7 linked regions of the Homo sapiens genome follow. The protein of the gene in region 5 interacts with the protein of the main gene of each other region in a pairwise test. Each region holds a gene or a part of one and is shown on either strand. Other genes may lie near its edges. The genes, in order: RFWD3, RMND5B, UBE4A, AMFR, UBE2D4, RNF111 and TRIM35.

Region 1 (4,200 bases), on a different chromosome or scaffold from region 5:
AGGCAACGTGGGAAACCCCATCTATACAAAAAATGTTTAAAACTTGAAGTATCTCACATTGTTCAGTTTGCAGACTTTCTTTCCCACTTATTTTCAGTACTGTGCCACTCTCCATCCTGAGTGTAAGCCTGTGTGGTTCAAACCTCCAGTTTTCTCGTGCATAGGGGGAGAAGGGCTTTGTTCTGTGTTTTGTTTTAGCTGGCTGGTGTTTGAGTAGGAGTCAAGCTAACTGCTTTACTGGCTTTTAACCAGCCCTTCTCTTTTAGCGCCATCTTTCAATATTGCCTTTTGTGGTACCTGGTTTTTACAGTCCCTTTAGTGGGAATCAGCTTGCTTCTCAATAACACACCTCACCCCAACCACTGTGCCCTTTGCAGGCTTTGAGTTTTATCTTTTGGCTCTGCTAAGCAGTCATCAATCATCAGTTTCTCCTTTATGGCCTTAAAAAACTGGTTTGCATATCATACCCTGTTTGCATTTGTGTCGTCCTGGTTAATTTATCCTTTCTTAAAAAAATGTCTCAGGTTGTGGGGGTCATGTTCGTGGGTTTTAGGAATGACTGGAGTGGAGAGAGAAAGATACATATATGTACTTCGTCCACTATGTTTATTAGAATTCCTTCCATTTATTCAGCCTGCACCAGTCTGGCCTCTGACCCCACCACTTCAGGGAAACTGCTTTTTTAGGTCACCTGTCATCCTCATGTTGCCAAATCTAGCGGCCGTTCTTCCCCCCAGTAGCACTTGACACTCAATTGTTCCTTCCTTGAAACATTGTTTTTCCAAGACACCACATTCCCATGTTTCCTCCTACTTTATAATCTTCCTTAACTGGCTTCTTTTACTCTGTTGTACTTTTAACAGTAGTGTCTCTGACTTTAGTCTTCAGCCCTCTTCTGTCATTCTGTTCCTCAGGTGGTTTAATCTGCTTTGATGATTTTAAGAAACATGAGTATTGGCCGGGCGCGGTGGCTCATGCCTATAATCCGAGCACTTTGGGAGGCTGAGGCTGGCAGATCACCAGGTCAGGGGATCGAGACCATCCTGGCTAACACAGTGAAACCCCGGCTGTACTAAAAATACAAAAAATTAGCCAGGCGTGGTGGCAGGCACCTGTAATCCCAGCTACTCGGGAGGCTGAGGCAGGAGAATGGCGTGAACCCGGGAGGCGGAGCTTGCAGTGAGCCGAGATCGCGCCACTGCACTCCAGCCTGGGCAACAGAGCGAGACTCCATCTCAAAAAAAAAAAAAAAGAAGCATGACCATTCTGAAGATTCTTAAAGCTGTCTGTTTGTTTTCATCTCCACTGCTACCACTCTTGCCTAGGTCTCTCTGACCTCTGGTCTGGACTCCCACAATAGCCTCTACACTGGTCACCTAGCTTATGCTCTTGCACCCCTACAGTGCATTCCTAACATAGAAGAAACTCCTTACCAAGGCCCATAGGCCCTTTAATAATGGTGTCCTGTTCATCAGTGAAACCCATGCTCATCAGGGACCTATGCACTGATTTCCTTCTGAGACTCTTCTTGGCTCTTTGCATAGCCAGCTGCTTTTAATCCTTCATGCCTCAGCCCAATTTTCACTCTTTAAAAGAGTACTTCCCTCACAATTGTGTCTTAGTTGGTCCTCTTTGTCTCCTCAACCCCAAACATCATAATCTATAATTTTTTTCATGTATTTGTTTATTGACATCTTACTTGCTAGAATCTAAACTCTGATACATGGGGTCTTATCTGTTTTTGCCTCTAGGGTGTCTTGTCTGCATAACAGGTGCTTAATAACTATTAGTTGAACCCCCATTTCCTCATAAGTCAGATGAAAATAAAAGCACGTGCCTTACTTCACAAAGTAATTAAGGGGATAAGTTATACTGATGTACTTTAAAAACTAGGTGGTAGGGAGGCACAGTGGCTCAGTCCTGTTGTCCTGATGCATGAGGAGGTAAGGCCAGGCATTCAAGACCAGTTTGGGCAACATAGGAAGCCTTCATCTATATAACAAAAAAAAATTTTTTTTTTTAGTTTAAAAACTAGGTGGTAGTTTTCAAACTGATACAATGGAATTAAAGATAGGAAACATGAAAAGAACATAGGTGCTTAATAAATATTTGTTGAATACGCTAACATGATGGAATTAGAGATGGAAAACAAAAATAATGAAAGGGATAGGATAAAGTTTGCTCAGCCTTTTTGGAAACATTAGGTAAGTTTCCATTTTGAGTTAGTAACAGTTAATTTTGCAAGTGTAAAAAATGTCCTTTCTCTATTTATCCCTTGTAACTGTTGATGCTGTGAAAGATTAATATTGCCTGCTAAAATTAGATACTGCATTATATGCATTTGATTTTGGTGAATGTCCATATTCAGCTTGAGAGAACTGCAAAGTGTCTGAGAGATTACTTTTAGACCCAGTAGTTTAATCTCCTTGGTTTATAGATCTTTCTATTTTGGAAGATACTACTATGATCACAGGACTTCATGTTTTCTAAGGGCAAACCGGAAAACTGGTTATAAATGCTTGTTATAGAGAGGAAAGTCCATTACCAAACACTTCTGACTTAAGTAGTTAAAATCTTCTCTTGAAGCTTCTCAGTCTTGCTAAGAATGATATTAAACATAAAATCAGAAAGATTAAATATGATTCTGTCACCTACATAGCATGTTTTATCTATTTTATTAATACTTTTTACAAATACTGTTTCTCTAGTGATGGCTCATGAAGCAATGGAATATGATGTTCAGGTGCAGTTAAATCATGCCGAACAACAGCCAGCTCCTGCTGGCATGGCCAGCAGCCAAGGGGGACCAGCCCTCCTCCAGCCTGTTCCTGCTGATGTGGTCAGCAGCCAGGGGGTACCATCCATCCTCCAGCCAGCTCCTGCTGAGGTGATCAGCAGCCAAGCGACACCACCCCTGCTCCAGCCTGCTCCGCAACTGTCTGTTGACCTGACAGAAGTGGAGGTCTTGGGAGAAGACACTGTGGAGAACATCAATCCAAGAACTTCAGAACAACATAGGCAGGGATCTGATGGTAATCACACCATCCCAGCATCTTCGTTGCATTCAATGACCAACTTCATCAGCGGACTGCAGAGACTTCATGGCATGCTGGAATTCCTGAGACCTTCATCTTCAAACCACAGTGTAGGGCCAATGAGAACAAGAAGGAGGGTATCTGCTTCACGGAGGGCAAGAGCCGGAGGGTCTCAGAGGACAGACAGTGCCAGGTAAATAAATATATGGATAAGTCTGTGATCATTGCTGTACTAGAAATTATGAAACTGAGGCTCTGCCATTCAAGGACTGACAGTGTGACTTTTGGCAAGTCAGGTAACTTCTGACCCCCAGTTCCTCATAGGTGGAAATAAAAGTGCTTGCCTTACTTCACAAAGTAATGAAGGGATAAGTTAAACTGTTGTGCCTTGAAAACTAGGTGGTAGTTTGTTGGCAATCTCTGTAGAGATTGGCTGTTGTTCAGATTGTGTCTTGTACACCAAAAATTCTTTCTTCACTTGCAAGTCTCTACTCACCCAAATTCATTATTCACTGGCATTCCACCTGGGGGCACAATTAATTAATTTTCTTTCATAGTCTTGGTTTGAACTTGCCTCTTGAAGGGCTTAGCTGTCAAGTCTTGACAGGGTTATTATGAAGAATAACAATTGCCTATACCCTGTCCGTTTTTTGGTTTTTTGTTTTTGTTTTTGAGACAGCGTCTCACTCTGTCGTCCAGGCTGGATTCCCGTGGCACAATCTTTGCTCACTGCAACCTCCATCTCCCAGATTCAAGCGATTCTCCTGCCTCAGCTTCCCCAGTACCTGGCATTACAGGCGCGTGCCACCACACCTAACTAATTAAACCTGTCTGTTTTTGGTTTTGTTTTGTTTTGAGATGGAGTCTCACTCTGTCGCCCAGGCTGGAGCGCAGTGGTGCGATCTCCGCTCAGAGAGGGCTTTGTTCAGGGTCTCATAACTATAGAATAGAGGAGTTAGCACTGATATTGGAGCCTGGATCTGCCCTGTTTTCTACATAGGCAGATGGAGGAAGCTTCGACGAAATCCCTTTGTTTTCTCTTTCTTCTTGTTTTTATTATTGTTATTTTTGAGACAGGGTCTCACTGTGCTCCCCAGGCTGGAGTGCAGTGGTGCAATCACAGCTCACTGCAGCCTCGACCTCCCCAGGCTTAGGCGATCTTCCT
Region 2 (4,200 bases), on a different chromosome or scaffold from region 5:
TGATCCACCTGCCTCAGCCTCCCAAAGTGCTGGGATTACAGGCATGAGCCACTGCACCTGGACAGAGTACTTTAAAAGAGTGAGTTTAATGGTAAGTGAATTATAGCTCAATTTTTAAAAAAGACATAGGAACCAGGGACTCCCTCTGGTCAGACCTAAGACAATTTGAACATTAAATAACTGCAATGGATTATAACCTATTGAATAAAATAAGAATATGAGTGTGAAGTGATAATAATGAAAGGAGAAGGGAAAGCTTCTTTTCAGTTGAATGTCAACTAATAAATGTATAAAGAATGACAAAGCAGGAAAAATCACCATGTTGCAGACAGCTTAGTAATAATTCACACAACAATCATTAATGGATACTAAAACTAGTAGGCTGAAATTTGGTAAAGAGCAGGACATTTATATGGTATCAAAGTATCTCCCCACAAACTACTTTTTTTTTTTTTTTGAGACAGTCTCGCTTTGTCACCCATGCTGGAATGCAGTGGCGCGATCTTGGCTCGCTGCAACCTCCACCTCCTGGGTTCAAGCGATTCTCATGCCTCAGCCTCCCAAGTAGCTGGGACTACAGGCATGTGCCACCATGCCCGGCTAATTTTTGTATTTTTAGTAGAGATGTGGTTTTGCCATGTTGACCAGCCTGGTCTCAACCTCCTGGGCTCGAGTGATCCGCCCGCCTCAGCCTCCCAAAGTGCTAGGATTACAGCCCACAAACTACTTAGTGATTACAAAGAAAAATTAGGAAGTTTACAGTGGAAAACCTTAGCAGCGACCATCTTAACTAAGTGATCAAAGTGAAGATCAGGCCAGGTGCAGCGGATCATAATCCCAGCACTTTGGGAGGCTGACACGGGAGGATCACTTGAACCCAGGAGTTCGACACCGTCTTGGACAGCATAGGGAGACCCTGTCTCTACAATAAAAAAAAAAAAAAATTAGCAGGGCCTGGTAGTGTACTGCTGTGGTCCCAGCTACTTCTGAGGCTGAGGTGGTAGGATCACTTGAGCCCAGGAGGTCAAGCCTGCAGTGAGCCAAGATCGTGCCACTGCACTGCAGCCTGGGCAACAAAGTGAGAACTTGTCTCCAAAATAAAAGTGAACAACAGCAATAATGCAATAAAGCAACATCTTGTGTCTTCCAGTGTGATGCACTGAGAAACAAATCACTTCTGAAGTACTGCCAAAAATGCAAAACCTAAGTAATGAGAAAACATCAGACAACTCCAAATTGAGAGACGTTCTGCAAAATAATTGGCCTTAATGCTTCAAAAATACCAATGTCATGGAAGATAAAGGAAGACAGAAGAAATGTCTCAGATTAAAAAAAGTAAAGATTAGACAGGAGAAACTAAATGCAGTGTGTGATCTTGGATTGGTTCTTGGACTGGAAATTAAAATGCTTTATGAAAATTCCTGAACAGCCGGGCATGGTGGCTCACACCTGTAATCCCAGCACTTTGGGAGGCTGAGGCAGGTGGATCACCTGAGATCGGGAGTTCGAGACCAGCCTGGCCAACATGGCAAAACCCTGTCTCTACTAAAAATCCAAAAAAAAAAAAAAAAAAATTAGCCAGGCATGGTGGTACGGGCCTGTAAACCCAGCAACTTGCGAGGCTGAAGCAGGAGAATCTCTTGAACCTGGGAGGCGGAGGTTGCAGTGAACCGAGATTGCGCCATTGCACTCCAGCCTGGGCAATGAGAGCAAAACTCTATATCAAAAAAAAAAAAAAATTCCTGGGACAATGGCAAAATTGAAATGTTGACTACACTGGCTGGGTATGGTGGCTCACACCTATAATCCTAGCACTTTGGGAGACCGAGGCAGGCAGATCACTTGAGGTCAGGAGTTCGAGACCAGCCTAGCCAACATGTCAAAACCCCACCTGTACTAAAAAATACAAAAATTAGCTGCAGGTGGTGGCATGCGCCTTTAATTCCAGCTACTCGGGAAGCTGAGGCACGAGAATTGCTTGAACCCGGGAGGTGGAGGTTGCAGTTGAGCCAAGATCACGCCACTGCACTCCAGCCTGAGCAACAGTAAGACTCCATCTCAAAAAAAAAAAAAGAAATGTGAACTATAGTTATTAGGTAATATTATATCAATGTTTCATTTCTTGGATTGATTTATTTATTTTGTTTTTTGAGACGAGTCTTGCTCTGTTGCCCAGGTTGGAGTGCAGTGGCGTGACCTCGGCTCACTGCAGCCCACCACCATGCCCAGCTAATTTTTGTATTTTTAGTAGAGACAGGGTTTTGCCATGTTGGCCAGGCTGGTTTTAAACTCCTGATCTCAGGTGATCTGTCGGCCTCGGGCTCCCGAAGTGCTGGGATTACAGGCGTGAGCCACTGTGCCTGGCAATTTCTGGGTTTTAATAACTACGCTGTTTTTATGTAAGAGAATGCCCTTGATTTTAGGACATACACACTGAAGGCTTGGGGCTATGTTATCTACAACTTATTTTCAAATGGTTAAAAAGTAATGATCACGGCAAATATGGCAACATATGAGCAGTTGGTGAATCCAAGTAAAGGGTATATATCAGTTCTTTATACTATTCTTGGAATTGGTCTGTAAATTTGAAATTATCTTTAAAATCTTAAAAGCTAAAAATAGGCCAGGCATGGTGGCTCACGCATATAATTCCAGCACTTTGGGAGGCTGAGGCAGGAGGATCACTTGAGCCCCTAGGAGTTAAAGACCAGCCTAGGCAACAAAGACACTGTTTCTACACACACACACACACACACACACACACAATTATAAAATGAAAAAAAGTTAAAAATAGAAAAGTAAGTTGAAAACAAAATGTAAATGGGAATCATCTCAGGTAAATTAATAATTTGTTGGGCTTTTTGAAGTAGCTCAGAGACTGTCATTACCCGGTTTCAAGGAGGCCTACAGATGCAGGTACCAACATCCTCATCATCGTCCTTCCGGAACCCTGTCACTCAGTAGCTTCGGGTCTCCCATGTCCTCAGGGAGGCTGTCGCAGGGCACTTGCAAGGGTGGCCACCCACCTGCGCTGGCCAGCTCAGCCCGCAGCTGGCCCACGTAGTGCAGCAGCTCCTCCAGGCTCCGCTCACAGTGCTGCCCGTAGGTCAGGAACTTCTGCAGGACCTTGTCCAGCTCTCTCTCCACGCACGCACACTGCTCCATGGTGGCCTCAGCCTGGGGAGGGTCAGCTGGGTCAGGCCCCATCTGGGCCACGGTGGCATGGCAGGCAGGGTGCCCAGACCACCTCTTCAGATCCCTCTCACCATTCCCACATCATGTATCAATGTTATATGTTTTGTACATATATGTATATATGTACCTATGTTTTGGTAAGCATATAACATCCCATCTCCTCACTCCACTGGGGTGCCCAGTGGAGGATGCAGGCTGGTGTGAGGACGAGGTTTTTCTTAATCATGGTGAGAAAATTATTATTCCATTTTCAACTCTTTTCATGCCTTAATTTTTGTTCATCTCCCTTTTAAATCAGAATAGAGAGCAGGCCTCACAGAGCCCTTAGCTGGCAATACTATCTAACTAGAAATCCATATACTGCATAATGTCATATTACACGTATGTATTTTCTTTTTTTGAGACAGGCTCTTGTTCTGTTGCCCTGGCTAGAGTGCAGTGGCACAAACTCAGCTCATGGCAACCTTGATCCCCCCAGGCCCAAGGGATTCTCCCACTTTAGCCTCCTGACTAGCTGGGACCACAGGAGTGTGCTTCTACACCTGTCTAATTTAAAATTTTTTTTCGTAGAGACGGGTCTCTCTGTGTTGCCCTGGCTGGTCTCAAACTCCTGGGCTCAAACGATCTTTCCACCTTGGCCTCTCAAAGTGCTGGGATTATAGGCATAAGCCACCATGCCCGGCCCGTGTATTTTCATAGAGTTATTATGGCCACATTCTTACAGTTAGAGGAACTGCTTTTCTACGTACTATAGTAACATAAACCATAAAGGCCGTCCTTGAGTGGCTGATATTTGGAAACACAGCTTGGGGAATAACTGCCAACCATGCTGGCCTGACGGACTTGCCCAGCACTCCTGCCTCACCCTCACCCGCCGCACACCCGAGGACAGGCACAGAACCCTTGCTGTCTCATAGCTGCGTGCCCTGGTACATGCTGCTTCCTCACCTGGCCTGCTCTCCATCACCCTTACCTCCTCGACTACTTGAGAGGCTGGCCCATCAC
Region 3 (4,200 bases), on a different chromosome or scaffold from region 5:
CCATCATACCCAGTCTGTAGTTTTAAGCTGCTATGTTTTGGGGTAATCTGTTACTCAGCATGATATGGCCAATACAATGGTTAAGAACACATAACCTGATTAGATTGACAACACCTGCCCACCCCTCAATGACTCACTGACACACACACACACACACACACACACACACACACACACACACGCACACACACACACACACTCTTTCCCTTCTGAGTTAACCAGCAGGAGCTAATTTTTTTTCTACAAAAAGGACAGGGAAAGTTAGATGAATGTGTAAGTTGAACAAATATTAATGATAGAAACTAACAGCTCTGAAAACTCTGATTACACTTAATCCTTTGAAGATGATTTTCTGATATGCATAGCAGGGGGACACAAGGTTGAGGGAACAAACTGTTAGTCCCCTAATACTTTGACCAGTAGATATTATCTAAGTTTGAGTTGTTTCTCCAAAAACAACTGAATGATAACGAAGAAAGGGTATTTTGAGGATTAAACTTCCAAAGTGACCCACTTAAACTCAGAAGGCTATAAACAGGACATTCCCAAGGGAGAGCCTGCTTACCTGGCACATAAGCCAAAGAGCTGTAGCCATCTGGCAAAGGAAAGGTTAGCTCTATTGGCTGTGAGCCCTCATTGCCTATGGCCAGTTGAACCAGTAGAACAGCCATGGACACCTGCAAGTTTAGGCAGTTTTGTAGCATTTGTGGCTCTGTCATGGCAGTCTTGGTAGAAAGATAGATGGTCATCAGTCGTTCAAACTGCTCACGAAGATTGTCAGCAGCAGGGCTAGAACTTTGCTGAGCATCCCGCCAGGCAACCTGCAGCCGATGCAGATTTTGGTTGATTTTTACCATCTGATCATGCAACCTGCCCCCAAGAAAGCAGAAGAGACTGGGTCAGGGAAAACAGAAAGTCACAAAAAAACAAATCCTCAATTATTTATCTAGCCTTCTCTTTAAGGATAGTAGGGAGTTGCAGTTGCAATGACACAGAAGGCACTCACAAAAGTTTTTGACAGGACACAGGCAGGGTGCACAGCAATGGGAAAATGCTGCCAAGTATTCAACATAATTGAAGCTAATTGCAAATAGCAGCCTTCAGTTGAAATGCACTATCCAAAGAAAGGCAGCTTGGTTGAGTAGGGTGTAGAATGGGTTGTTATTACATAAAATAATTATTAGGCAAAGTACAAGAAGGCCAGCAGGATAGTTTTACATCACACAAGGGCAATGATCATACTTTGATGCAATGATCATACTTTGATGGGGTTATATGGATAGTCTTTCTTTGGTTAGTAGAAAACTAAGCTGGTGAAAAGGGACTCTAGATTAGTAATGACCACATATAAACTAGTAGCCACCTGAGATGCAATCTAAGAGCAGCTTCCAGCTCTCTGTTGTTCAATATTAAATTAAATTATTCTTCAGAAAAGGTCAGCCTAATATTCTCTACTGAAAGGAAGACACATAATTCAAAGTTATGGATAATAGTCCAAAATCATTTCCTTTGGCCCTGTAGATAATGTCTTGAGCTAGCTAATATTGGGAAACTAGATGATATTCATTTTTTGTTTGAATCTAGGCAGCTGAGCAGCTTAAGCACATGCTGAACTTTTATCTACTGTCTTATTTAAAATGTCTATGATGGAGATTTCTCTCTAAAGACATAATTTCCTTCTTCCGGCAATGTGTTGACTGAGTAGTTTTGAAAAATGCTCTGCATCAATTCAGGTATCTTGAGAAGGCATTAAAAATTGCTATTCTTAGTGTCCCTTTCTATGACTGAGTTGCTGTTTTCTTCCTCTACTTATACCTGTCATAATCAGCTAAATCAGAGGAAAACAAATTACAGAATAATGAATAGCCAGAACCAGAACTGTTTTTGGAAGTCATACATTCTAGTTCTAAAATCTTAACATTTCTAGAATCTTCTTTATCTAATGTCTTTTGTGGTCCTATTGATCTCATTAGCTCCCTTATAAACATTTCCTTAATATTTGCCACTTTTGTCTCTATCTGTAGAGTAGAACTTGGTCTTTTTCTTTTTTTTAATTAATTTTTTTTTTTGAGACAGATTCTCGCCCTGTCGCCTAGGCTGGAGTGCAGTGACACCATCTCGGCTCACTGCAACCTCCGCCTCCCAGGTTCAAGCGATTCTCCTTCTTCAACCTCCCGAGTAGCTGGGACTACAGGCGCGTACCACCAAGCTGGGCTAATTTTTTGTATTTTTAGTAGAGACGGGGTTTCACCATGTTAGCTAGGACGGTCTTGATCTCCTGACCTTGTGATCTGCCTGCCTCAGCCTCCCAAAGTGCTGGGATTATAGGCATGAGCCACTGCGCCCGGCTGAACTTCATCTTTTATCACCAGGAGTAGTAATGAAATTTTTTTTTTTTTTTTTGAGACAGGGTTTCACTATGTTGCCCAGGCTGGAGTGCAGTGGCGCAATCTCGGCTCACTGCAGTCTCAACATCCCAGGCTCAAGAGATCCTCCCACCTCAGCCTCGTGAGTAGCTGACACTACAGGCACACGCCACCATGCCCAGCTAATTTTTGTATATTTTGTAGAGACGGGGTTTTGCCATGTTGCCCAGGCTGGTCTCAAACTCCTGGGCTCAAGTGATCTGCCTGCCTCGGCCTCCCAAAGTGCAAAGGATTACAGGCATGAGCCACCACACCCGGCCAGTAATGAAAATTTAAGAGCAGAAAGTGCAATATAAAATGAAAACAATTCCACTTTCCCAGATCACAATAGGAAGACAGTGATTTAATTTTTAAAGTTTAACAGGTCAAAAGTTAAAAAACAGGCCAGGCACAGTGGCTCATGCCTGTAATCCCAGCACTTTGGGAGGCCAAGGTGGTGGATCACCTGAGGTCAGGAGTTCGAGACCAGCCTGGCCAACACAGCGAAACCCCATCTCTACTAAAAAAATACAAAATCAGCTGGGCATGGTGGTGCATGCCTGTAATCCCAGCTACTTGGGAGGATGAGGCAGAAGAATTGCTTGAACCCAGGAGGCGGAGGTTGCAGTGAGCAGAGAATGTGCCACTGTACTCCAGCCAAGGTGACAAGAGCGAAAATCCATTTCAACAACAACGACAACGATAAAAGTTAAAAACAAATTTAAGGAATCTGGACAAAGCTGATTCATGAAACACAAGTAAATTCATACAATGCCCCTTTTCTATTAGATTCTAATGTGAACCTTTAGAATAAGCTCAGATTATATCTGTAAGACTCTTCCTCTCTTTTTTTTTTAAGAAACAGGTTATCACTCTGTCACCCAGGATGGAGTACAGTTGCACAATCATAGCTCACTGTGGCCTCCAACTCTTCGGCTAGAGCAATCCTCCTGCCTCAGCCTCTGAAGCAGCTAAGACCACAAGCATATGCCACCATGCCTGGCTAATTTTTTTTTTTTGGTAGAGATGGGGGTCTCACTTTCTTGCCCAGGTTGGTGGTCTTAAACTTCTGGCCTCAAGCAATCCTTCTGCCTTGGCCTCCCAAAATCCTGAGATTAAAGATGTGAGCTACTGTGCCTGGCCAAAGACTCAATTTCTACCTTCTAGTTATCAACACAACTAAACTGTTTTTTCCTAATGACATCAGAGGAGTTACCTGTGAAATCCCAAGTACAAGGTGTACTCTGTCAGAGCAAGGTTCTCTGTTACAAGGTTGTAGTTCTGTGGAAACTTCGGCTCCTGCACAGCTGGGATCAAACAGGTTTCTTTGTCCAAACCTCAAAGAAGTTAAAAAAAAAAAAGAGGGTAAATGTCTTGGTCTCCAGTCTCCTCTTACACTCATTCAATTTCCATACTGTTAGCAGTGATATCTTCTTAAAAACATATCTTGTCATATTAGTTCTTTGTCTGAATATATCTTTTGGTTTCTCACCGTCTACAGAAATACAGTTAAATCTTTTTCATGAAATCACCAAAAATTAAAAGGAATACTACTATAGATTGTTTCAAGTGATAGGCAATAGATCATTTGTATTTATTTTGTGCTTTTCTGAATTTGATTATTTGCTTTTGAGCAGTTATCATGTTTACAATTAGAATTATAAAACTGGAATGAAATATACCAAAATTAAGAGTGATTTCACTTTGAATGGTAGGACTGTGAGTCATTTATTTTCTCTTCATTTCTCTGTACTGTTTTCTCCAATCCAGCCCCACCTATCTTCCTCCCTTGATC
Region 4 (2,797 bases), on a different chromosome or scaffold from region 5:
TTACCAGATGCTCTGGTTTTTTCAAGAGAGGCTTGAAATCTGAGTTTTGGGGTGGCATGTAATGCCGTTTCACTGTTGGCATCTGTTTAAAAAGAGAAGACGGCCTGACAACGGCCTTCAGCCACTAGTTTTTGATCTGGATTATGCCAGGTGGTCTGGAGAAGCGACTCACTTGCGAGCTTGCTGGAGGAGTTCGTCCTTACGCTGCACCAGCATGCGCTGTCTCTCATCAGCAGACTTGGAGAAGCGGCTCCCACGAGCCTCGAAGTCTTCCACCTCACTGGGCTCCACTTCCACCTCGCCGAAGTCCAGCGTCTCCTCCAGGCGAGGACTGAGGTCCAGTGGCACACGCTCGGTCTGGACACGGGGCAGGAAGCAAGGAGGCAGCTGTGAGCACAGGCCTCCCTCCTAAGCAGGTTCCTCACCTACAGGGCACCCCAGACACGGCTGTTCTGGACGCAAAGAGAAGGCTGCTGCCAAGCAGGGAGGCAGAAACTAGGAACCACAAGCTACGGATAATGGAGCAGCAGCTTCCCTGAGGGCAGGCCTGCTGCCTATGGCTTGAGTAGTACTAAGAACAGGACCTGACTCACACAGAATGTTCGGCATCAGAGGGTAAGTAAATGATTACCAGCATGAAAAACGTAAGCACCTTCAAGCTGCACTCTTAGAATACGCTACCAACACGACAACCGTGAGTTTACATCCTGGGAATTTTCTGTTCACTTCTACTAATTGCTCAAACATTTAAACCAGTCTTATCCAATCTTCTGCACAAATTTTATATCCTCAATTGACTCTGAAAACAGAGGTAAAAAGGAAAACTGCTAGGCATCTATTTATTTATTTATTTACAGACAGGGTCTCACTCTGTCACCCAGGCTGGAGTGCAGTGGCACAATCTCTGCTCACCACAGCCTCAACCTCCCCAGGCTCAGGGGATCCTCCCAACTTAGCCTCCCAAGTAGCTGTGACCACAGGCTCGTGCCACCACATCTGGCTAATTTTTGTATTTTTTGTAGAGACAGGGTTTTGCTTTGTTGCCCAGGCTGGTCTCAAACTACTGGACTCAAGCAATCTACCCACCTCAGCCTCCCAAAGTGCTGGGACTACAGGCATGAGCCACTGTGCCCAGCCCTAAGGATCTTTTGAAAAGACACAGGATGGATTATATGGTTCCTTGGCTTTGGTTGAAGCTCCAAAGTCCACGACAATGCCCAGGCACCCCCAGGTCCTAGCAGGTGCCTGACCATCTGCGCTGCTCATGCTCCCAGATGCAGACCTGCGCTGGCCAGGGTCAGCCCATTGCCCGCTTCTAGGCTGTGACAGAATGGAGGTGGGTGCAGCTGAGAGGCAGGCTGTTTTACTTCAGAGTTCCTGCTGGACCTACCCTCACTTTTTCCTGCCTTCAGCTAAGCTCGAGAGGGAACTTCAAGAGAACCATTCGTATCCCCGAGAGTCAAAGGACGGGGGAACTGGTGGCTGCATACACTTGAGAAATCTACAGAAAGAAACTGGCAGGAGCCAATAAAATACAGGGCCAGGGGAGCTGTGACGGGAGCACGTTCACCTTCCACTGACTCCAGACAACACTGTGTGTGTCCTGGAGCTTGGATAGGGCTCCTGCAGGAGGGAACCAACCTAAGGTTGTTGAAAACAACTGTGCCCAAAAGGACCACTTGGAGAGGTAACAGGACCCCCATGAAGGTGGGAGTGGTCATCAATAGCCAGCCCAGGGTCAAAGGAGGAGTTTCTGGGGCCAGATGGGGACAGGGAGATAGTTGGCATAACATGTACACACACACACACAGACACACGTAGTTGGCACAACATGTAGGTACATACACACACACGCACACACACGCTGGAGTCTCACTGTCCTATTCTATCCCTCTCCTCTAAGCCTGACCCTAGAGCAGGTTAGAAAAAATGGTGAGTGAAGAGGCGAGATGTTAGAAAGAAAACAGCCGCCCACCGCAACCCCTGCTCTGTGCAGCTGCATGCCTGACTAATACCAGCCTGAGCGGGGCAGGGCAGAGATTAGAACAGAGGGAGAGTGGAGCTGACAAGCTTACTGGGCTACACTGAGGTTTCTGTTAACTAATTGTTATTCAAGGACTTTGTATTTCTTCACAAATGACCAAAAATGTTGCACAGCAAGGTTCCCTGTGAAATACATACTTTCCTCCATTATATATACATATATATATATAAAATCCAGAACTCTTCATGCTAACTCTAGAAGCAGCAGTGGAAAATCAAGACAGGGACTGAATATGCTGTACCCACAGATGCCCCCAAGCCCACAGCATCCATATCTCAGCTGCGCCAGCTATTCAAAAACTGGAGGCCGGGCGCGGTGGCTCACGCCTGTAATCCCAGCACTTTGGGAGGCAGAGGCGGGCGGATCATGAGGTCAGGAGATCGAGACCATCCTGGCTAACACAGCGAAACCCCGCCTCTACTAAAAATACAAAAAATTAGCCAGGCGTGGTGGTGGGCGCCTGTAGTCCCAGCTACTCGGGAGGCTGAGGCAGGAGAATGGCGTGAACCCGGGAGGCGGAGCTTGCAGTGAGCCGAGATCGCACCACTGCACTCCAGCCTGGGTGACAGAGCGAGACTCCGTCTCAAAAAAAAAAAAAAAAAAAAAAAACTGGAAATGTAGACATGGACCCCTTAGAAGCCATGCACCATTTCACAAATGATGCATAATCCAATTACATAGGTGGATATGAAAATCTTAACCCAGCAACAGATTTGAAGAAGGCCTAGTAGTGTTTACTGTTTCCTCTTTGTA
Region 5 (4,200 bases):
CATGGCTCAGCATGGGCAGGAAGATGTCTGTGGGAACCTGCAGCCTAGAAGCACCAGCTCAGAGCACAGGTACTGCATGGAGCTGCCTGGGGCAGCCATGGTGCAAAGGCAACCCAAAGAGGACACGTACTTCTCTCTGTCGGCCTTGTAGGTGTGTGCTATCTCTGGCACCAGGGGGTCATCGGGGTTGGGGTCGCAGAGCAGCGAGCAGATGGACAAGAGAACTGGGAAGAAAAGAAAAGGTTGGTCAGCTGTAGCCACGAAGCTGCTGGGTCACCCCTGGGTAAACTTCCCTGAACTTGCACTCTGTATTTTGACCAAGCAGTTGTCTTCCCTTCAACAGCCCAATCTAAATTGCTTGATGCACCACTTGCCCCGTCCCATGTATCAGCCGAGGTGGTCCTCACTGTGTGGCCTGAGGCATGCTGTGCTAGGATACTTCCCTCCTGGGTGCATCCTGGTTCTCATTCCCCTTCTCCACTGAAGCACCCCATCTTAGTCTCCAACTGCCCTCCCATCCTTGTCTGTACCCTACATCATGAACCTCTGGCATTTAGTCCTAGGAGTCCTGTTTACTGTTAAGGAAACAAGAATTCAGAGCATTCAAGTAACTTGTCCAAGGTCACAGACTTGGAACACCCAATAAATGGATTAAAATGAGATTCTGGACCAGGTGCGGTGGCTCTTGCCTGTAATCCCAGCACTTTGGGAGGCCGAGGCAGGCAGATCACCTGAGGTCGGGAGTTCAAGACCAGCCTGACCAACATGGAGAAACCCTGTCTCTACTAAAAAAATACAAAATTAGCCAGGCATAGTGGTGCATGCTTGTAATCCCAGCTACTCAGGAGGCTGAGGCAGGAGAATCTCTTGAACCTGGGAGGTGGAGGTTGCAGTGAGCCGAGATCGCGCCATTGCACTCCACCCTGGGCAACAAGAGCAAAACTCGATCTCAAAAAAAAAATAAAGAAATTCTGAACCAGGTCCTTCTAACTGCAAAGCAGATGCATCCTCCTCTGTGCCAGCACCGTCTCTAAGATGTGCACTCAATGTGGCTCTCAGCAACCCTAGGGGAAGGGAATCACCCACTAGGGCTGTGGTGAGGAGCAGAAGGAATTGTGGTGCCTGGATTCTTGGGGTCCCAGAGAGAAATGCACACTTTCATTCCTGGCTTTGCTTTCGACTCACCATATGATTCCAAACAAACTGGATTCAGTGAGTCCATCAAAGTTCTGACCACAGGTCCCCACACATAAAGCTACAAATGACAGGGGCAGGTTTGCCTTTCTTAAGATACTTGGCTGGGCACAGTGGCTCACGCCTATAATCCCAGTGCTTTGGGAGGCCACAATGGGAGGACTGCTTGAGGCCAGGAGTTTGAGAATGGCCTGGGCAACAAAGTGAGACCCTGTCTCCTCTACAGAAAAATTTAAAATTTAGGCCAGGCTCTGTTTCTCTTGGGTTGATTTTTCACCATCCTCCCACGCTCCACCTGCCAGGATACTGCACCATCTACATTCAGGTCTCTCGTGCATACATAGCCCATGCACAGCCCATCTTAATTCAGAAGGAATATCTGCATTTCTAAGCTCAGTTTAGACTGGTTTCTTCAACTTCAACCAAAGACATGTGCTCAACATCATTTATTTTGGGAAGGGAGGATTTCTCCACCAACTTCGAGGCCCCCGGAGGCATGCCCTGTATCTTCCTTCAGGGCTGACTCACAGTCCGTTTTGTGCTTATTAGATGAATAAATGAGGGAACAGAGAAGGTAATGTAATATTTGCCTTTCTTATTTTTGGATAAAAAAATATAAGTAGAATCAGTATTTTCTTCTTGCACCCATGTGACAGTCTTGAGCACACCAGGGCAATTGACTGCTGAGAAGCGCCAGGGAGCGGGGCACAAAGTTCTGCTGGTGCTGCCTCGTAGGCGTGTAAGGATATCCACTTAAGGGCACAGCAGTGGACAGGGCTATGTGACCTGGGAAAGGTGACTTCTTTCTCTGAGCTTCCATTTCCACTCAGTCAGTGCTGGGGTAAAAACATGTGTAAAAGAGCACACAGAGCATGCCATCAGCATCTCTACCTTTTGACACAGTCAACGCTGGAGACCACTGAGACCGCAGGATATCAAGGCAGATGCTGCCATTGCTGTTGATATTAGGGTGATAAATTTTGGTTGTGAAAGCAACCTGCAAAGACAAGAGATCCCCAATCAGACAAACCACAGGGACGTGTGGGAAATGAACCAAGTAAAGCAGAAGCAGCTGCTGCTGGGCAGTACCTGGAGTGTGCTGCATACCTGGCCCCACAGTGCAGGCTAAGCCAGACCCCCACTCCCAAACTCTAATGGGATATGGGAGTGAGTGATCACCCAGAAGTTCCCTGACCCATTCCCTGCTGGATTCTCATTCTGAACATAGGGGGATTGATACCATCTCCCTGAAAGCAGTATGCTCTGAGGAATAACAAGGGTGGTGGAAAGGACTCAAAAGCCCAGGAAGTTTTATGCAAAAAGCAGTGATGTTTTGTTGATGTATCAGCAGAAAAGCTCAGGCCCAAAGACTTCATGACTAAAACACCAAAAGCAATGGCAACGAAAGCCAAAATAGACAAATGGGATCTAACTAAACTAAAGAGCTTCTGCACAGCAAAAGAAACTATCATCAGAGTGAACAGGCAACCGACAGAATGGGAGAAAAATTTTGCAATCTACCCATCTGACAAAGGGCTAATATCCAGAATCTACAAAGAACTTAAACATATTTGTAAGAAAAAATCAAACAACCCTATCAAAAAGTGGGCAAAGGATATGAACAGACACTTCTCAAAAGAAGACATTTATGCAGCCAACAGACACATAAAAAATGCTCATCATCACTGGTCATCAGAGAAATGCAAATCAAAACCACAATGAGATACTATCTCACAGCAGTTAGAATGGCGATCATTAAAAATCAGGAAACAACAGATGCTGGAGAGGATGTGGAGAAATAGGAATGCTTTTACACTGGTGGTGGGAGTGTAAATTAGTTCAACCATTGTGGAAGACAGTGTGGTGATTCCTCAAGGTATTCCTCTAGTACTAGAAATGCCATTTGATTCAGTAGTGATCCCATTACTGGGTACATACCCAAAGGATTATAAATCATGCTACTATAAAGACACATGCACATGTATGTTTATTGCGGCACTATTCACAATAGCAAAGACTTGGAACCAACCCAAATGTCCATCAATGATACATTGGATTAAGAAAATGTGGCATATATACACCATGGAATACTATGCAGCCATAAAAAAGGATAAGTTCACATCCTTTGCAGAGACATGGATGAAACTGGAAACCATCATTCTCAGCAAACTATCACAAGGACAGAAAACCAAACACTGGGCCAGGCATGGTGGCTCACACCTGTAATCCCAGCACTTTGGGAGGCTGAGACAGGCGGATCACCTGAGGTCAGCAGTTCGAGACCAGCCTCAACATGGAGAAACCCCATCTCTATTAAAAATACAAAATTAGCCGGGCATGGTGGTGCAGGCCTGTAATCCCAGCTACTCGGGAGGCTGAGGCAGGAGAATTGCTTGAACCTGGGAGGTGGATGTTGCGGTGAGCCGAGATCACGCCATTGCACTCCATCCTGGGCAACAAGAGCGAAACTCTGTCTCAAAAAAAAAAAAAGAAAACCAAACACTGCATGTTCTCACTCATAGATGGGAATTGAACAATGAGAACACAGGGACACAGGGCGGGGAACATCACATACCAGGGCCTGTCGGGGGGTGGGGGCTGAGGCAGGGATAGCATTAGGAGAAATACGTAATGTAAATGATGAGTTGATGGGTGCAGCAAACCAACATGGCACATGTATACCTATGTAACAAACCTGCACGTTGTGCACATGTACCCTAGAACTTAAAGTATAATAATAAAAAAAAAAGAAAAAGAGAAGCTCAGGCCGTGGACCCTCTGCCAGGCCACAAACCCTCCCCACCTTTCTACTTCACCCTTTCTAAGACCCCCCCTTCTCAGAATTTAGCCCTAAAATACCCTTGTGCACTTCAAATATGTAAGGATAACCACTGTAACAAAAGATGTAAAACCTAAATGTCTTCAGATTGATTACTGGTTAAATTAATGTTATATATAAGCAACAGAATATTACACCTGTTTAAAAAGAATGAGGTGAATTTTTAA
Region 6 (4,200 bases), on a different chromosome or scaffold from region 5:
GTCAGCACGCATGAGCAAGAGCACACAGGCTCAAGAGCACTGATAGGAAATAGTCCCTACCCAATTTTAATTGATGTATCATATGCACTGTCGAGACTAAAAGTCTCTGGGTCCTAGTATTAGAATAAAAGTTACTTGAAATTACTTTTCAGCTATAAAGAACATGATAACAGCAAACAACAAGAATATAGTACTTAAAGAAAAAATATTGAGAGCCCAAGGCAGGTGGATCGCCTGAGCTAAGGAGTTCAAGACCAACCTGGGCAACTTGGCAAAACCCATCTCTACAAAAAATACAAAAATAAGCCAGGTGTGGTGGTGTGGGCCTGTAGTCCCAGCTACTTGAGGCGCTGACGTGGGAGGACGGCTTCAGCCCAGGAGGTGAAGGTTGCAGTGAACCAAGACTGCATCACTATACTCCAGCCTGAGCAACAAAGCCAGATGCTGCCTCAAAAAAACAAAGGAAAAAAAATTAACCAGTCTTTTTTAGTGACTAGAACTGTTCTTACTATGGCTGAATCCATCATACAGGTAGCTGAAAAAGTATTCATAACAGTCAAGCATATTAAAGAAACACAAGGAAAAAAATGTGTACCATAAATGAAGAACATACATAAAATATAATCTAATATGTATAAAATGTAATAAATGAGGCCAGGTACAGTGGCTCATGCCTGTAATCCCATCACTTTGGGAGGCTGAGGTGGGCAGATAATTTGAGATCAGGAGCTCAAGACTAGCCTGTTCAACATAGTGAAACCCCGTCTCCACTAAAAATACAAAAATTAGCTGGGCATGGTGGTGGGCACCTGTAATCCTGGCTACTTGGGAGGCTGACGCAGGAGAATTGCTTGAACCCAGGAGGCGGAGGTTGCAGTGAGCCGAGATTGCGCCACTGCACTCCAGCCTGGGTGACAAAGTGAGACTCTGTTTCAGAAAAAAAAAAGTAATGAAGGGTTATTCTCCCAAAAAACTCTGACTTATTTTTGTCACTAGAAATTTTTTAAATTTTTATCTTAGCATTAGAGTCATGGTTTAATACTGCAATTGGTAATTTATATGACTTAAAAATAAAAGTTAATAGAACCTGATAGTCCCTTTAAATAAAATCAGTAAGACACAAACAAAAAATTAAGCACAAATGCAATGCAATAGGTTCCATGTTTTACTCAGCTTAAACATTTTTACCTGAGGGAACAGCTGGATTGTTTTGGTGGTTTTCACTGGCAGAAACAAACAAATCTTCTTCTCCTTCAGTTGATGAGCTAGAAGAGGATTCACTGCTGAGGTCATTCTCACTGGAACTACTAGAACTAGGTAGCAAGGCATATTTTCTTCGAGCTAACACTTCTCGTTTCTTCCTCTGCATTAATATCCTCTCTTTTTGTTTCTGTGTCCTCTGTGAGGAATTATTTTTTACAAATCTCTTTCTGCATGGAAGTCTCCGTAACGAACTGCCATGTAAACAGGGTCTTTTCATTAACAATCCCGATACAGATTCTGTCTCAGTCCGAGGCCACTTATGAGACCGTGCACTATGGCTTCTACTTTTAGCATTCAAAATGGTCTGGGAATGTCTTACAGAGACTTCTTTATCCTCATCTGAAGTCACAGTATCAGAATCTCCAAAATGCAGACTAGATGAAGGAGAAGAAAGACAATCACTAAAAGAGGAATCATTATCTTCATCACTTGGTGTCCCTAGGTGTTGCCTCAGTCCTAATATTCCCTGGTTTTCTTTAACACAATTCTGCACATACGAAGGGCCAGCCTGCTGGCTTTTGCGTTTTTTCCTCACAACGAGACTTTTTTCTTGTTCTTGCTGGTTACCATTCATTTCCTTCTCTTGCTTTTGAGAATCATCACACAGGTGAGAGAATTCATTCCCCACTTTACTATTAATCATCTCAACTCCTGCAGGAAAACTTTTGGCTGCCCCAATGGGCTCTGGATGCAAAAGGATCCCTTTCAGACTCTCCTGTGTCTTTGGTGCATCAGAAGGAATCTCACTCTTCATATCCACTTTTAAGGTGTAGAGCTCGTTATATTCAGGAGTCCATTGAGACATGGGAAACTTTAAGGAAAGCCTAGAAGACAAAATTAGATATTTAAAAGATTTTTAATGTGTTTTATTATACTATTTAATTGAAGAGTTCTCAAATTCCACCAAGAAGATCCCTTATAAAGGCAGAACTGTCTTTTCCTCATCAGTACACAAAATGTCTGTTATGAATTATTTTACTATTCTTATAAAACGTTTTTCTCTGGTCACTCTACTCATGCATCCAATTTTTAGAAATACAGTAGATATAGAGCATAAGCCTACTTAAAAACTTCTATTAACCAAAAACTGATCTTATTGCATATCTCACTACCTTCAGCAACAAAACATATTTGGTCAAATCAAACAATTACTTCAAAACCTATTTCAGTGAAATATAAATAAAAGGATTCGAATTCAAAAGACTAATTAGTCAACATGTTTTACTCCTGGTATGACATTTTTAAGTGGTTATTATTAAATGTTTCTGTACATCTAGATGGTTACTACATTAGATTGATATTATTAATAATGAGCTAATGAATATAAGCTTCTCTTTTCTATTTTTTTTCCTTCATACTACTCTATTAATTCTCTAATGAGAATCTGAATTCTCCTGATAGTAGACACAACTACTGCATTTCAGTTTTAAATACAAAAAGATTAGAGCCAAGACTGTGGGCTGCTGAAGATCATTCAGTTAAATAAACAATACAGCAGAACATAAAATCAAACTTTGTACAGCTAATCTATCTAAATCATTCAACATCTTAAATTACGAGCTGCCAAAAAGAGATCTGAATTTAAAGCATTTACATCAATGCAATGTACATATGAAAATAATGTAATAGTAAATATCATGACTCAAAATGAAATATATTAATCAGAAAGGCAGTAAATGTGACAAATGAAGAGCTTTACTAGTGCAAAACATGAATAAACAATGTTAACATATTTTTAACAAGTTTTTATTAAGTATAGCATACACACATATTCTAAGTTTATAGATGAATGAACACTAAAAAAATGAACACCTCTATGTAACTGGCACACAGATAAACAACATAACCAGCACCCTAGAAATCTTCTTCCCATTACTACAGCCCACCAAACTGTTAACCACTATTGTAACTTCTGACACCACAGATTTGTTTTGCCCATAAAATACATTTTGAAACCAGTTCCTAAAAAGCGAGTACAACAGCTGTTTAGTAAGCAAGTATTTTCCCTCTCTACAAATGGGTTACAGAAATATATAATCTTACAGGTCTCCCATGTTACTATAGTATATAACTTTACTATCAGAACAAATGACAATAATTAAGGCATAGAATGACCTATTCCTACAGAAAGCTATCAAAACCACTATCTTCTTTTATTCTTATTCACAAGCACAGGCAGTGCTGTATCCAAGATCAGCCATCACGCGCTATCTGTAGTTCAGCAGGATCAGTGATAAACCAGGAATACAAAGATGAGTGAACATGAGCATGGCAATGAGCAAATTACAGAAGGCAGCCAGTCAGACAAGGATCACTTTAATTAAAGGCAAGAACACAGAAGTCACAATGATAAAACACAGGTACATGTGATCTAAGAGTTGAATGGGGCCAAACAGGATGGCTGTAATAAAGAACACAGGTAATAACAAGTGTTAGAGAGGATGCATAAAAAAAAAACATTGGAACCCTCATATATTGCTGATGGAAATGTAAAATGATACAAGCTACTTTGGGAAGCGGTCTAGCAGATCCTCAAAAATTAAATACAAGCTGGGCGCGGTGGCTCATGTCTGTAATCCCACCACTTTGGGAGGCCAAGGCGGGCGGATCACTGGAGGCCAGGAGTTCGAGATCAGCCTGGCCAACATGGTGAAACCCCATCTCTACTAAAAATACAAAAATTAGCCAGGATAGTGGCGCACTGACTGTAATCCCAGCTACTTGGGAGGCTGAAGCATGAGAATCGCTTGAACCTGGGAGGCAGAGGTTACAGTGAGCTGGGACTGCACCGCTACAGTCCAGCTTGAGCAACAGAGCAAGACTCTATCTCAAGAAAAAAAAAAAAATTAAACACAAAATTGCTATGTGACCTAGCATTTCCACTCCTAGGTATGTACCCAAGAGAAATGAAAACACATATTCATAAAAAAACTTATA
Region 7 (4,200 bases), on a different chromosome or scaffold from region 5:
ATCCTAAAATGGCCCTTCTCTGAGATGTCAGCTGATGAGACTAACCAACAATTATATTACTATTGCTAGCAAGCAGTTACTATTAAGCATGTACTAGACACAAGGCACTAAATTATGCACTTTACAAACATTCTATTTAATTCAATTATTTAATTCGAATTCTCCCTATAAGGTTAAGCACTGTGAGTCCCATTATACAGAGGATCAAGTTAGACCCAGAGGAGGTAACCTTCTTGTACATGTCTCCTGGGGACACATGGGAACTCGTTTCTTCATAATATATTCCTGGGGATAAAACTGCTGGGCCACCATATGTGTCTTCACTTTACTGCGTAATGCCAAATTGTTTTCCAAAGCAGTGGTACCAATTTTTACAGCAAGAGCAATGTTAATAGAAAATGTTTATTGACCACTTCAATGTTTATTTTTAAGTACTCAGTAAAGTATTGTCCATTTTTCCATTGCGTTGCCTGCCATTTTCCTAACTGGTTTGTGGGAATTTATTATATATACACAATGTATGTCCTTGATTAGTTAGAGGTGTAATGAATATTTTCTACTTCATCATTTATCTTTCTTAATTGAAATATGGCCAAATTTATTAGTCTTTTCCTTTAGGATTAGTATACTAGTTTTAAGAAACACCTCCCTACACTGAGATCACAAAAACAATCGTATTATTTCCTCAAAGCTTTATAGCTTTGCATTATTATTGTATAGCTCTGTAGTATTTTCTCAAAGCTTTATAGCTTTCCTTTCACATTTAGGTCTGATGTGGATACCTGGAGTTTATTTTTGCACATGGTGTGACCAGGTAGCTCATTGTCTCAGCACCATTATTTAAAAAGACCATTACTGCCCACTGGTCTGCAGAGCCACCTCTGTCTTAAATCAGACACAGATCTGTTTTTTGGTTCTCTCCATCTGTTTCTCTGGCCCATCTGTTTATCCTTGTGCCAACATCACACAGCCATAATTTCTATAGCTGTAAAAAAGAGAGGATTTCTGATAGGTTTCTCTTCAAGAATGTCTTGGCAATTTTTGGCCCTTTGAGGGTCATATAAATTTTAGAATCTGTGAAGTTGCATAAAAATAATCATGTTGAGATTTAGATTAGTACAATATTGTCTCTATAGATCAATTTGGGGAAAACTGAAAGGCTTAAATACTGACTTTACTAATCCACGAACATAATATATCACACCAGTTACTTAATGTTCTTTGATAGCTCTCAACGAAGTATATTTTTCCCTATCAGAGTTTTGCGTATCTTTTATTAATTTCTTCCTAGTTATCTTATTTTTTATATTATTGTAAACATATTTTTAAATTAAAAAAACCCAAAACAGGGTCCCCCTCTGTCACCCAGGCTGCAGTGCAGTAGTAGCACAATCATAGCTCACTGCAGCCTCCTGTGCTCAAGTGATCCTCCCACCACCTCAGCCTCCCAAGTAGCTGGGACTACAAGCATGCACCACCACACCTGGCTAATTTGTTTTAACTTTTTGTAGAGACAGGCTGGACTATGTTGTGCAAGCTGGTCTGAAACTCCTTGGCTCAAACGATCCTCCTGCCTCAGCCTCCCAAAGTGCTGGGATTACAGGTGTAAAACTCCCTGCCTATATTTTATTTTCTATTTGCTAGTGATACATAGAAATACAACTGGTTTTGCATCTTGATTTTGGATTCAGCATTCACCTAAACTTATTAATACTTATGATTTAACTGTAGAATCTTTATTTTCTACACATAGAAATCTCAGTGCAAAAATATGCAACCATATTATCTACACATGCCAGTTTTGCTTCCCTTCTTTCCAAACCTTACATCTTTTATTTATAATTATTGGCTTACTTCATTGACAAGGCTATCCCACACAAAACTGAATAGAGTTGGTCATAATGCGCATTCCTGTCTTTTTCTTGATCTCAATAAGAAAGCTTTCAATGTTTTGCCATTAAATGTGATATTTGCTGTAAGTTTTTTTGCTAGATATACTTAATCAAACTAATGAAATTCCTTCCATTTCTAGTTTCCTGTTTTTTTAAACACAAAAAGATGGTAAATTTTATCAAATGTTTTCTCACTGAGATAATTATATTAAGCAACACAGAATTAGGTTTCGTTTTCTTATCCAGTCAGATCAACATTTTCATTTAACTGGAGTATTTAACACATAATTACCGATATGTTTGCATTTAAATCTGCCACCTTGTTCTGAGCTATTTGTCTTGCTTATTCTATTTTTCTTTTTCTTCCTTTCCTTTTTTAAAATTTACTACACATTTTTTATTCCATTTTCCCCTTCTGTGCATCTAGTGGTTCACCTAGGAAATATGACATGTAAGAAGTGTGAATTTGAATGCATCTAAACAATATTATTTTGTTTGCTTTTGGTATTAATTTTAACCCTAAATATGCTTAGATTACAAATAGAACTACCACTCAAGGGGCCTGCCTGTAGCCCAAGGAGCACATGAATGAGCAGAGATGGGCAGTAGCAGGGGCCCACAACAGATCTGGAGCATCCCCCAGCCCAAGCTCAGGAGAGCAAACAAGCTTCGATGTTAGCATCACATTATAACATTAAGATTTTTTATTTATTTATTTTATATTTTTTACTTTTTTGAGATAGAGTCTCATTCTTCTTGTCCAGGCTAGAGTGCAGTGGCGCAATCTCGGCTCACTGCAACCTCTGTCTCCCAGATTCAAGCAATTCTCTTGCCTCAGCCTCCCAAGTAGCTAGGATTACAAGTGCCTGCCGCCATGCCCAACTAATTTTTGTATTTTTAGTAGAGACAGGGTTTCACCATGTTGGCCAGGCTGGTCTTGAACTCCTGATCTCAGGTGATCCGCCCGCCTCGGCATCCCAAAATGCTGGGATTACAGGCATGAGCCACCGCGTCCAGCCTACGTTAAAGATTAGTTATAAACACACACAAAATAGGTTTTTATTCATACTAAAGGATCCAGAATGTGATCATATAGACTACATGATTTCCCAAAAATGACAAGTTGATTCCTTAAGCAACAAATTTCAATTGCATATTGAAGATCTTAAGCACTTTACAAAATCACGTTACCCACAATTTTCATTAACAGGACAGGTGCTCTGTGGTATAGCTGGAAGCAGGAAGGTAGGGGCAAGGGAAAGAATGAATTTCATTGCACAAGGTCTTCATAGCCTCTTTGCAAGGACTTACCAAAGTGCTAGAGTTGCATGTGAAACCAGCTCTGTCTGGCCTGAGCCAGGTTTTCTGTCTTGTGAGACTTGATACACACTGTTGCTCTGCCTGGTTCCCACCTGCTTCCCCCAACTAACCCAACATCACCTTGAAAACTCGGCTCTAGTACCCCTCATTTCCTCCAGGAAGCCCCCCGATCTTGCCAGCTCAGGTTCCATTCCAGGGCATCACAGCACCCTGGCCACCTCTGTCTCAGCACTCACTATCCAGGGTAATAGCTTCTCTTTCCTGAGGGCAGGTCTTAACCTCCAGGTCCTCTCTACCTTGCATAGTGGTGCTCGGTACACTTCTGCAGAAGGAATGCTTGCTCTGCAAGGTGAGAGACTTTGTTTTGTCCCCTGCATGTCCAAGTCCCTGCACAAAGTAGATGTTCAGTTAACCACCTGCCCAGTCAATGAGTACATGGAATGCCTGTGTTTTTTCTGCTATATACCTTGCCTCCTGGACTGAAGGTTAGGAGAGCTGGTTTGGAGCCTTGTCTTTGTCACTATCCACTGGTGAGTTGGTAAAAAGTTCCTTCTCTCTTCGGCTATCAGGCTCCTCACCTTAAAAATGAAAGCAGAGAAGTCTCTACAGTCTCCCAAATTTCACGATTTGTTTTCAGGCAGATTGATGTAGCAGCCAAGAGTTCTGGCACCTGGCCGACCAGGTTCAAATCCCAGCACCTCTACCTAGTAGCAGGTGATCTTGAACATGTTCCTTCACTTCTCTGCACCTCCATTTCCTCATCTGGATAAGAGGGATAAAAAATACTACCAAGCTCAAAGGACTGCTGTGAGGACTCCACAAATCAATCCCTATAAGATGCTTACATGAGAGTGGCAGGCACATGCTGTGCATTCGGCATAGCTCTTAAGTGCCACCTACATGCCAGGTAACCTAACTGTCCTGCTGGATATGGTCCAGGTTTCTTAAATGAACAGTAAAAATGCATGGAGCTTTCTTATGCAACTCC

Evidence for each region.
Region 1: the proteins of UBE2D4 (region 5) and RFWD3 interact in a two-hybrid assay, tested with the Homo sapiens proteins (2 studies listed by BioGRID and IntAct).
Region 2: the proteins of UBE2D4 (region 5) and RMND5B interact in a two-hybrid assay, tested with the Homo sapiens proteins (one large-scale study listed by BioGRID and IntAct).
Region 3: the proteins of UBE2D4 (region 5) and UBE4A interact in a two-hybrid assay, tested with the Homo sapiens proteins (one large-scale study listed by BioGRID and IntAct).
Region 4: the proteins of UBE2D4 (region 5) and AMFR interact in a two-hybrid assay, tested with the Homo sapiens proteins (2 studies listed by BioGRID and IntAct).
Region 6: the proteins of UBE2D4 (region 5) and RNF111 interact in a two-hybrid assay, tested with the Homo sapiens proteins (2 studies listed by BioGRID and IntAct).
Region 7: the proteins of UBE2D4 (region 5) and TRIM35 interact in a two-hybrid assay, tested with the Homo sapiens proteins (one large-scale study listed by BioGRID and IntAct).

What each region holds. Positions count from the first base shown.
Region 1 is NC_000016.10:74,659,960-74,664,159, reverse strand, and holds part of RFWD3 (E3 ubiquitin-protein ligase RFWD3), read left to right. Parts: exon of another isoform or gene 1-2,204; intron 2,205-2,706; exon of another isoform or gene 2,707-2,708; 5' UTR 2,709-2,710; coding exon 2,711-3,228; intron 3,229-4,200. UniProt on the Homo sapiens protein: E3 ubiquitin-protein ligase required for the repair of DNA interstrand cross-links (ICL) in response to DNA damage. Plays a key role in RPA-mediated DNA damage signaling and repair.
Region 2 is NC_000005.10:178,137,085-178,141,284, reverse strand, and holds part of RMND5B (E3 ubiquitin-protein transferase RMND5B), read right to left. Parts: intron 3,178-4,200; 5' UTR 3,166-3,177; coding exon 3,027-3,165; intron 3,003-3,026; exon of another isoform or gene 2,889-3,002; intron 1-2,888. UniProt on the Homo sapiens protein: Core component of the CTLH E3 ubiquitin-protein ligase complex that selectively accepts ubiquitin from UBE2H and mediates ubiquitination and subsequent proteasomal degradation of the transcription factor HBP1.
Region 3 is NC_000011.10:118,376,116-118,380,315, reverse strand, and holds part of UBE4A (ubiquitin conjugation factor E4 A), read right to left. Parts: intron 3,743-4,200; coding exon 3,622-3,742; intron 871-3,621; coding exon 566-870; intron 1-565.
Region 4 is NC_000016.10:56,363,749-56,366,545, forward strand, and holds part of AMFR (E3 ubiquitin-protein ligase AMFR), read right to left. Parts: intron 358-2,797; coding exon 173-357; intron 1-172. UniProt on the Homo sapiens protein: E3 ubiquitin-protein ligase that mediates the polyubiquitination of lysine and cysteine residues on target proteins, such as CD3D, CYP3A4, CFTR, INSIG1, SOAT2/ACAT2 and APOB for proteasomal degradation.
Region 5 is NC_000007.14:43,946,623-43,950,822, reverse strand, and holds part of UBE2D4 (ubiquitin-conjugating enzyme E2 D4), read right to left. Parts: intron 2,192-4,200; coding exon 2,086-2,191; intron 225-2,085; coding exon 131-224; intron 1-130. UniProt on the Homo sapiens protein: Accepts ubiquitin from the E1 complex and catalyzes its covalent attachment to other proteins. In vitro able to promote polyubiquitination using all 7 ubiquitin Lys residues, but may prefer 'Lys-11' and 'Lys-48'-linked polyubiquitination.
Region 6 is NC_000015.10:59,028,691-59,032,890, reverse strand, and holds part of RNF111 (E3 ubiquitin-protein ligase Arkadia), read right to left. Parts: intron 2,088-4,200; coding exon of another isoform or gene 2,069-2,087; coding exon 1,189-2,068; intron 1-1,188. UniProt on the Homo sapiens protein: E3 ubiquitin-protein ligase. Required for mesoderm patterning during embryonic development. Acts as an enhancer of the transcriptional responses of the SMAD2/SMAD3 effectors, which are activated downstream of BMP.
Region 7 is NC_000008.11:27,301,083-27,305,282, forward strand, and holds part of TRIM35 (E3 ubiquitin-protein ligase TRIM35), read right to left. Parts: intron 3,762-4,200; exon of another isoform or gene 3,679-3,761; intron 1-3,678. UniProt on the Homo sapiens protein: E3 ubiquitin-protein ligase that participates in multiple biological processes including cell death, glucose metabolism, and in particular, the innate immune response.